Regions from separate parts of the Homo sapiens genome. Here region 2 is linked to region 1. A link means that fine-mapping ties the variant in region 1 to the expression of a gene that starts in the linked region. Tissue or cell type: prefrontal cortex. Region 1 holds a variant in brackets; the other region holds the start of a gene. All regions are shown on one strand. Distances are from middle to middle. Region 1 overlaps SCLT1 (sodium channel and clathrin linker 1). Region 2 holds the start of C4orf33 (chromosome 4 open reading frame 33).

What was found.
Region 2: C4orf33 starts here. The variant in region 1 is fine-mapped to the expression of C4orf33 in prefrontal cortex (BrainSeq, PIP 0.91).

Annotation. Positions count from the first base shown.
Region 1 is chr4:129,009,513-129,014,894 of GRCh38, reverse strand. The region is part of intron 5 of SCLT1 (sodium channel and clathrin linker 1); the gene reads left to right. Among named protein-coding and RNA genes, the nearest start is that of SCLT1, 81 kb to the left of the region's middle. The variant AAAAC/C (reference allele first, on the strand shown) is at 2,882.
Region 2 is chr4:129,094,103-129,099,484 of GRCh38, reverse strand. C4orf33 (chromosome 4 open reading frame 33) reads right to left here and starts at 3,333. Exons shown (of 6, transcript NM_001099783.2): 1 at 3,276-3,333.

The DNA.
Region 1 (5,382 bases):
CCCAGATGAGTTGCCTCTGCCACTGTGGTTAATTCCCACAGGGAGGCAGGCACCCCAGCAGCCACTAGCACTCTGCCACAGCTGCTGCTACTGCTATTGCTGGCACATGTGAATGAGGACAGATCCCTCTGTCACTGCACTATGAAACACTTTGGCTGACACTACACATTGGAATGTAGTGACCAGTGGTCCAGAAGCACCTGGTGCTCGCAGCACAGTGGATTTCTAACCTCATGGAGTGAGAGAACAATGTCAGGGCCCAATACAAATCCCCAGGGTTAGAGCATACAGTCCAGAAGTCAGGAGCTGAGCATTGGTCCCCTAATGTCTTTCAGAAATGAAGCCAGTCAGCTAAATCTACCCTATATGATAATCAAACCCTCAAGGTCATCAAATAGGATAAAAGAGAACAAAAGCCTCGAAAGGTCAGCAGCCTCAAAGATTGAAGGTGGATAAACCCACAAAGATGAGAAAGAATCAGTGCAAGAATCCTGACAACTCAAAAAGCCACAGTGCCTTTTTTCCTCTAATCTACCCCATTGCCTATACAGAAAGGGTTCAGAACTGGACTAAGATGGCTACAAATGACAGAAATAGAAATCAGAATATGCATGAAACGAAGATCATTGAGCTACAGGAGTATGTTGAAACCCATCCAAGGAAGCTAAGAACGATGATAAAACAATGCAGGAGCTGCCCAGCAAAAATAGCCAGTATAGAAAAAAACCAACTGACCTGATAGAACTGAAAAAGACACTACAATAATTTTATAATGCAATCACAAGTATTAAAAGCAGAATAGATCAAGTGGAGGAAAGAATCTCAGAGTTTGAAGACTGGATTTCTGAAACAAGACAATCAGACAAGAATAGAAATAAAAGAATGAAAAGGAGTGAACAAAACCTCCAAGAAATATGGGATTATGTAAAGAGACCAAATCTATGACTCATAGGCATCCCTGAAAGACATGGGGAGAAGGGAAGCAACTTGGAAAACACATTTCAGAATACCATCCATTAGAACTTACCCAACCTAGCTTGAGAGGGTAACATTCAAATTCAGGAAATGTAGAGAACCCTAGTTAGATAAGTTAGAAGAAGATCATCCGCAAGACACATAATCATCAGATTTTACAAGGTCAAAATGAAACAAAAAATTTTAAAGACATCTTAGAGAGAAAGATGAGGTCACCTACAAAGGGAAGATCATTAGACTAAGAGCAGACCTCTCAGCAGAAACCCTACAAGCCAGAAGCAATTGGGGGCCAATGGTCAACATTCTCAAAAGAAATTCCAAGCCAGAATTTAATATCCAGCCAAACCAAACTTCATAAGCGAAGGAGAAATAAGATCATTTTCAGGCAAGCAAATGCTGAGGAATTTCATTACTACCAGACCTGCCTTACAAGAGCACCTGAAGGTAGCACTAAATACAGAAAGGAAAGATCATTATCACCCACTACAAAAATACACTGAAGTACACAGACCAGTGACACTGTAAAGCAACCACATAAACAAGTCTGCAAAATAACCAGCTGACACGATGACAGGATCAAATCCATACATATCAATACCAACCTTGAATGTAAATGGGCTAAATGCCTCAATTAAAAGGCACAACCTTAGCAAACTAACGCAGGAACAGAAAACCAAATACCGCGTGTTCTCACTTATAAGTGGGAGCTAAATGGTAAGAACTTACAAGCACAAAGAGGGAAACAACAGACACTGGGATCTACTTGAAAGGAGAGGGTGGGAGGAGGGAGAGGAGCAGAAAAGATAACTACTGGATACTGGGCTTAATACCTGGGTAATGAAATAATATGTACAACAAACCCCTGTGACATCCATTTACCTATGTAACAAACCTTCACATGTACCCCAAAACTAAAATAAAAGTTAAAAAGCAAAAAAAGACACAGAATGGCAAACTGAATAAAGAAGCAAAACCCGTTGGTATGCTGTCTTTAAGAGTCCTATCTCACATGCAGTGACAAACATGGACTCAAAAGGATGGAGGAAGATTTACTAAGCAAATGGAAAACAGAAAAAAAGTAGGGGTTACGATCCTAGTTTCTGACAAAAGCCAAAAAGAGCAAAAAAAAAAAAGAAATGGCATTACATAATGGTAAAAGGTTCAATTCAATTCAACAAGAAGATCTAACTATCCTAAATATATATGTACCCAACACAGGAGCACGCAGATTTGTAAAGCAAGTTTTTAGAGACCTTCAAAGAGACATAGACTCCCATACAATAGTAGTGGAAGTCTTTAACACCACACTGAAAATATTAGACCAATCATCAAGAGAGAAAATTAACAAAGATATTCAGGACCTGAACCCAACAGTGGATCAAATGGACCTGAGAGACATCTATATAACTCTCCATCCAAAAACAACAGAATATACATTCTTCTCATCACCACATGGCACATGTTCTAAAATCAATCACGTAATCAGAAGTAAAACACTCCTCAGCAAATGCAAAAGAACAGAAATCATAACAATCTCTCAAACCACAGCACAAATTAGAAGCCAAAACAGAAATTTGCTCAAAACCATACAATTACATGGAAGTTGAATAACCTACTCCTGAATGACGTTTGGGTAAATAATGAAATTAAGGCAGAAATCAAGTTCTTTGAAACTAATGAGAACAAAGATACAACATACCAGAATCTCTGGGACACAGCTAAGGCAGTGTTAAGAGGGAATTTATAGCACTAAGTGCTCACATCAAAAAGTTAGAAAGATCTCAAGTTAACAACCTAACATCACAACTAAAAGAACTACAGAACCAAGAGCAAACAAATTCCAAAGCTAGCAAAAGACAAGAAATAACCAAAATCAGAGCTGAACTGAGGGAGATTCAGACACAAA[AAAAC/C]ATCCAGAAGATCAAAGAACACAGAAGCTGGTTTTTTGGAAAAATTAATAAAATAGACCATTAGCTAGACTAATAAAGAAGAAAAGAGAGAAGATTCAAATAAACACAATCAGAAATGACAAGGAGATGTTACCACTGACCCCACAGAAATACAAACAACCATCAAATAATATTATGAACACCTCTATGCACATAAACTAGAATATCTAGAAGAAATGGATGAATTTCTAGACACATACACCCTCCTAAGACTAAACCAGGAGGAAATTGAATTACTGAACAGACCAGTAATGAGTTCTGAAATTGAGGCAGTAATAAATAGCCTATGAACCAAAAAAGCCCAGGACCAGATAAGTTCACAGCCAAATTCTACCAAATATACAAAGAGCTGGTACCACTTCTACTGAAACTATTCCAAAAAAAAAATGCTTAGGTATTCCTAAGCAAAAAGAAGAAAGCTGGGGACATCACACTGCCCAACTTCAAACTATACTTCAGGGCTACAGTAACCAAAACAGCATGGTACTGGTACAAAAACAGGCACATAGACCAATGCAACAGACCATAAAACTCATTTTATGAGGCCAACATCATCCTGATACCAAAACCTAACAAAGATACAACAAAAAAGAAAACTTCAGGCCAATATCCCTGATGAACATAGAGACAAAAATCCTCAACAAAATACTGGCAAATGAAATCCAGCAGCACAGCAAAAATCTTATCTACCATGATCAAATAGGCTTTAGCCCTGGGATGCAAGGTTGGTTCATCATATGCAAATCAATAAATGTGATTCATCACATAAACAGAACTAAAGACAAAAACTACATGATTATCTGAAATGAAGCAGAAAAGGCTTTCATTAAAATTTAACATTCTTCATGTCAAAAAGTCTCAATAAGCTAGGTATTGAAGGAACATACTTCAAAATAGTAAGAGTCATCTATGAAAAACTCACAGCCAGCATCATATGGAATGTGCAAAACCTGGAAACATTCTTCCTGAAAACTGGCACAAGACAAGGATGCCCTTTCTCGCCACTCCTATTTGACATAGTATTGGAAGTCCTGGCCAGGGCAGTCAGGCAAGAGGAAGAAATGTAATCCAAATAGGAAGAGAGGAAGTCAAACTATCCGTATTTGCAGATGGCAGGATTCTATATCTATAAAACTTCATAGTCTTGGCATAAAAGCTTCTTAAACTGACAAACAACTTCAGCAAATTCTCAGGATACAAAATCAATGTGTAAAAATTACTAGCACTCCTGTACACAAAAAAACAGTCAAGCCAAGAGCCAAATGAGTAACGCAATCCCATTCCCAGTTGTAATAAATAAATAAACACACAAACTACCTAGGAATACAGCTAACTAGGAAGGTGAAAGATCTCTCTACAAGAAGCACAAAATACTGCTCAAAGAAATCAAAGATTACACAAACAAATGAAAAAATGTTCCATGCTCATGGATAGAAAGCATCAATATTGTAAAAATGGTCATACTGCCCAGAGCAATTTATACATCTAATGCTATTCCTATTAAACTACCATTGAGATTCTTCACAGAACTAGAAAAAACTATTTTAAAATTCATGTGGAACGAAAAAAGAGTCCAGATAGCCAAGGTAATCCTAAGCAAAAATAAGAAAGCTGGAGACATCATGCTGCCTGACTTCAAACTATACTGCAGGGCTACAGTAACCAAAACAGCATGCTACTGGTACAAAAACGGGCACATAGACCATTGCAACAGAATAGAGAACCCAGAAATAAAGCCACACACCTACAACTATCTGATTCTCGACAAACCTAACTCAAGCAATGGGGAAAGGACTCCTATTCAATAAATGGTGCTGAGATAACTGGCTAGCCATGTGCAGAAGATTAACAAACATTAACTTAAGATGGATTAAAAACTTAAATGTAAAACCCCAAAGTATAAAAACCCTGGAAGACAACTTAGGCAATACCATTCTGGACATAGGAGTGGGCAAAGATTTTATTAAGAAGATACCAAAAGCAATTGCAATAAAAGCAAACATTGACAAATGGGATCTAATTAAACTAAAGAGCTCCTGCACAGCAAAAGAAACTATCAACAGAGTGCACAGACAACATACAAAGTGGGGGAACATTTTTGCAAACTGCATCTGACAAAGGTCAAATATCCAGCATCTATAAGGAACTTAAATTTACAATAAAAATCAAACCTTATTGAAAAATGGGCAAAGCACTTGAACACCTTTCAAAAGAAGACATACATGTGGCCAATAACCATATGAAAAAAAGCTCAACTTAATTAGAGAAATGCAAATCAAAACCACAATGAGATACCATCTCACGCCAGTCAGAATGGCTGTTAAAACATCAAAAAATAACAGATGCTGTTATGGTTGCAGAGAAAAGGGAATGCTTTTACACTGCTGGTAGAAACAGAAACTAGTTCAGCCACTAGTGGAAAGCAGTTTGGATTCTTTTTTTTTTTTTTTTCTTTTTG
Region 2 (5,382 bases), 85 kb before region 1:
AGATTTTGTGCAGGAGAAATCTACTGTGTTCGTGGTATCATCATCTCATTTAACACTACATATCAGATCAATACAATGGCTAATAACAAAGATAATAAGCCCAGAAATTCCCTTCAATTTAGTTTATCAAGCATTTATTAAGCACTCATCTTATTTCAGGTACCATACCAGGTGCTGGGGAAATAATATATAATAAGTCTACAGGAGTTTGGGATGGTTCTCATGTAACTAATCAATGAGGTACCCGTTTCCAACATCAGTTGGTTCATTTTGCAGTCCAATTTAATTCAGTGGGATCCTTATACCAAAGTAAGTTTTAGATGAATCAAAGATTTAAACATAAAAATCAAAATCATATAAAAACAGGAAATAAAAAGAGAGTTAAATAAAATCTTATAGTAGTAAGGTAGGAGATGAGCTGGGCTTGTTTTCTGAGCACCAAGGTCCCACTGATTGAAACAGAATCTTATCAAAACAAGATGCAGCAAAGAAACTGGCCACAACCAGCTAAAACCAAGATGGCAACAAAAGTGATCTCTAGTTGCCCTCACTGCTCATTATACATTAATTATAATGCAGTAGCATGCAAAAAAAAACTCCCAACAGTGGCATGACAGTTTACAAATGCCATGGCAACTCCTAGAAGTTACCTTATATGGTTTAAAAAAGGGAGGAACTCTCAGTTCTGGGAACCCTTCCTACTTTTCTGGAAAATGCATGAATAACCCACCCCTTATTTAGCATATAACCAGGGAATTGTATGTATACAGCTGGCCAACAATTCATGGGAGCTGCTGCTCCTACTCTGTCTATGGAGCAGCCATTTTCCTGTAGTTTGTTGCTCTGATAAACTTGCTTTAGCTTGTGAATCCTTTCCTGCATGAAGCCAAGAACTCTCCTGGGCTGAGCCCCAAATCTGGGCTTTCCCTGCATTAGTAGAGAAAACCTTTTAAAATACAAACCAAAACCCAAACATTTTACTACATAAATATAGCAAAACTAACATGGATGCAGCTGGAGGCTATTATTCTAAGCAAATTCATGAAAGTACAGAAAACCAAATACCACATATTTTCACTTATAAGTGGAAATTAAACAGTAGGTACTCATGGACATAAAGATGGCAACAACAGACACTGGGGACTACTAGAGGGGGGAGGGAAGAAAGGGGCAAGGGTTGAAAAACTAACTACTGGGTACTATGCTCACTACCCAGGTGATAGGATCATTCGTACCTCAAATCTCAGCATCATGCAATATAACCATGTGACAAACCCGCACATATATACCCTGGATCTAAAATAAAAGTTGAATTTTTTTAATAATAGATAAATAATAGTAAAAAAGCAAAAACCTCCTTCCCAAGTTCCCTTTACTCCAAAAGCCTATCATTAACAAAATCAAAAGTCTGGGGAAAAGTATATGCAATTCATACTTGATACAAATAACTAATTTCTTTAATGCACAAAGAGCTCCTAGAAATCAATAAGGAAAAGACCAACACTCCAACAGAAAAGTGACCAAAAATTATGAACAGCCAGTTCACGGAGAGAAAATGCAAAATGTTCACTTATAATGACAGAAATGCAAACTAAAACCACAATAAATTACCATTTTTCACTTAGATTGGCAAGGATCAGAAAGTCTGACAACAAGCTGTGTTAATGAAGGCATTGAGAAAAAAATCATTTATTGCTAGTGAGGCATAATTGATATAGCCTCTGTGAAGAGCAATACGTCAATATCTATCAAAATAAAAATGCAACTATCCTTTGACAAAAATAAGTCTAGTTCTAGGAGTTACTATACCTGCACATATTCAAAATGACATAAGCGTTGAGGATATTTGTGGTAGCATTGTTCATAATAACAAAATGTTGGAAGCAACTTAAATACCCATCAGTAGAGGACTGGTAAAAAAAATTATGCTATACCATACAATGAAACACTGTATAACTGCTAAAATGAATGAGGCAGCTCTGAATTAACATCTATGCTAAAATATGTTGTGAAGTGAAAAAAAGCAAGGTGCATTTATTTAATAAAAAGGAAGCTTATTTGCATATATGCTTGTGAGGCATACACTATCTCAGGAAACATCCAAGAAACGAGTGGTAACAGTGGTTGCTTCCCTGAAGGGAATTATCTGCCTGCAGATATGGGAAGGAGGAAGGCTTCCTTTCAACTTCATCACTTTTTAAAAACCTATCTGCATTTTACACTATGACAGACATGCATTACTATTTTAAGGTAACTGAACAGTTTAAAATTATTTTTTGGCCGGGCGCGGTGGCTCACACCTGTAATCCCAGCACTTTGGGAGGCCAAGGCAGGCGGATCACAAGGTCAGGAGATCGAGACCATCCTGGCGAACATGGTGAAACCCCGTCTCTACTAAAAATACAAAAATTAGCTGGGCGTGGTGGCACGCGCCTGTAGTTCCAGCTACTCGGGAGGTTGAGGCAGAAGAATCGCTTGAACCCGGAGGCGGAGGTTGCAGTGAGCAGAGATCGCTCCACTGCACTCCAGCCTGGCAACAGAGCAAGACTCCGTCTCAAAAAAATATATATATTTTAAGTCTAATTTAAGGCCGGTTCTCTTAAAAAGAGTATGGTGGCTGCCTCTTCTCCCCTTTATATTATATATGCTGAACGTTTCCGAAAAGTCATAATGCATATTATCAAGATGATTACTGTCCTGCAATGCAATTTTAAGTTTGGCTGTTTAGACTTTCTTAATACAATATTTATTGTTACTCTGTATGTTTCTACTTTTAACCTCTATTCTTCAAATTGCTCTTAAAACAAGTTAAAAAAATAAATTTTCAATTGTTCTGATTGCTTTATCTTTACCTGGAAAGACCTCTAAAAGGAAACGAAGGAAGAGAAAGGAGACCGAACACTGGAGCATTAAGAACCCAGGAAAAGAAAAAATGTCCGCAAAGTTTAAAAGAAATAAGTTATGGTAAAGGTGTTTTCTCAACCAAATGATCTGCAAGGAAAATTTCCAAATTCCTCTGCTCAACAAAAATTTCTTTAGTTTTTCTACAATAATGATTTCTTTTCAGTTTCCATACCTCCCCGAGGCCCCGCCCATTTATCAGGGAAACGGAGAAATGAGGAAGTCAGCCTGAAAGGGGGAGTACGCTCACTTAGCAGGAGACAGCTGAAAAGTAAAATACTTTTCAGTATTTTCCAGAGATCAAGCGAAAAACAAGACCTGGCGACGACGAAAGGAATGTCAGAGAGAAGAGGGAACAACTAGAGAACACAGACCACGAAGCTTTTCTCAAACACTGGCTTCTTCTTTTCAGCCGAGGTCACAGGAGAGGGCTCGGCTTTAGGCTCCACCCAGCTGCCTACACGTTCTGGGGGAGGGGCTTAGAACACTGAAGCTAAGACGCTTGATTTTTCTAGGAAAGAAAGATGTTGAAGGGCCACACATGAACAACTGAAGACTTCTAATCGTTCCACTAAAGTATGAGTGGTTTCCTAGAAGAAGGAAGGGTGATTCAGAAATATAAATACTGTGCAATAATTTGAAAATCAACTGTAAATCATTAAGATTACAATATAACATGTACAGAAATATTTCATTTAATACAACTAAAGGCTAACTGGCCATATAAGCAAAAACTATAAATTATATTATACCAGCTATAAACTATATTATACTATATTCCTGGGGAGGCATGTTCATAGCAGTTAACAATTGTGAAATTAGAACCATACTGCCTGGGTTCAAATCTCAACTCAGGCACTTGCCAGCTGTGTGATCTGTTCTGATCCTTGCTTAAACTTCTAACTTTGTATTCTTCCTGGTACTTTGCACATAGTACTGGGTGCTCAATGTCAATTGATCAACCAAATGAATGTTAGTGAAATGTCACTAATTTTCAATCTATACAACTTTAGGGGTTTTCTTTATTGCAGAAAAGTCATATAAAAACATTAAATGGTGGCTTGACAAGAGTTACACACAAACTACATACATTTCTGCTTGTCATTCCTTGTATTCAATTTATACTAATAGATACTTTTCATGAACATCCACTGAATTCTTTCATTCCTTCCATCAGATATTTAATCAACTCTGTGTTCCAGGTATTATGATGGAGCCTGGAGACAAACTACAAAACATGACAGATAATGCAGGAAGGAGCATGAAGTAAGTACTAAGGTGGCACCTACCTTGGGAGAAGTGGATAAAGAACTCAGGAGATGTGAAAAGGAGGAACATGAGAGGGGATCCTTTAAGGATAAGTGAAATCATCACAATTTTGTTTCCTAATGATGAAACTTATGTTGAAAATACTCCATTAAAATTCAACTACTAAAATCTTGTAACCACAAACACAAACGCAAAAACAAAAAACTATCATGATCATAATTATGATCATGTAAGCTAAAAAATTCGAGTGCAGACATAAAAGTTTTCACCTGAGATATTCACTTTATGTAAATACCACTCATCAGTTATAGCCAGAAGGTATTTGCTTCCATCCAGTTTGGGTGTAAGCGTAGAGTTAAGTCTATAATTATTTATTTGATGCCAAGTAGAAATACGACAATATACAAGGTTCAAATGTGGGAGAAGTTACAAGCAAGTCCTTGGAGAGTCAGTGAGATGTTTATGAAGAAAGAGTCATATACTGAACTTCAAAAACGAGTTGGACCTTGCACACTCAATTTTCCCTTAGCTATAACGTTTATACAAAAAGTTTTTGTGTAAACGTTATAGCTACTAAAAATCAGAACAAGTTCAATTATCACCAACTCAAAGCTGGATTAGACCTTTTCAATGATTATTAAGCTACACATCCATATTTAACAGCTAGTCTTTAGAGGAAGGGACCATCTCATTCTATTAACAGTGAGTATTGAGTAAGGCCTTCAGATGCCTAACTGCATATATTTGAATACATTTTTAAAATTTCTTAACACATATCGCTAAGGTTACTTTGTTTATATGACATTATGAGTACGGGACAACAAAACTCTTAAGCCGTTAAACAGAAAGCCAAATCAAGCTGCATCTATGACATGCCTGTTTAGTGAAACTTTACTTCAGTCCATAAAAATACAATTTATTAAAAGCACAAAACTAGTGGCTAGCTTCAAGTTAACATTTTTGTTGCTAGTGGTGAGATTTCCTCTAATGTTAAATGATTTTTTTTAAAAAAATACGTTTTAAGTCCAGACAAAATTAATTTTCAAAAATGAAAATTGTAATCTATCCACAAATGTAAGTTTTACCGTTTTGTTTTTTGCAAAAAAAAGTACCTTTTATCTTTCCTTATATTTGAGGAAACAAGCTTATCTTTGAAGAAGTAGCTGCTGAATTTGCAAGATCTTTTGAGTACTTCTAACTACACGCTTTATT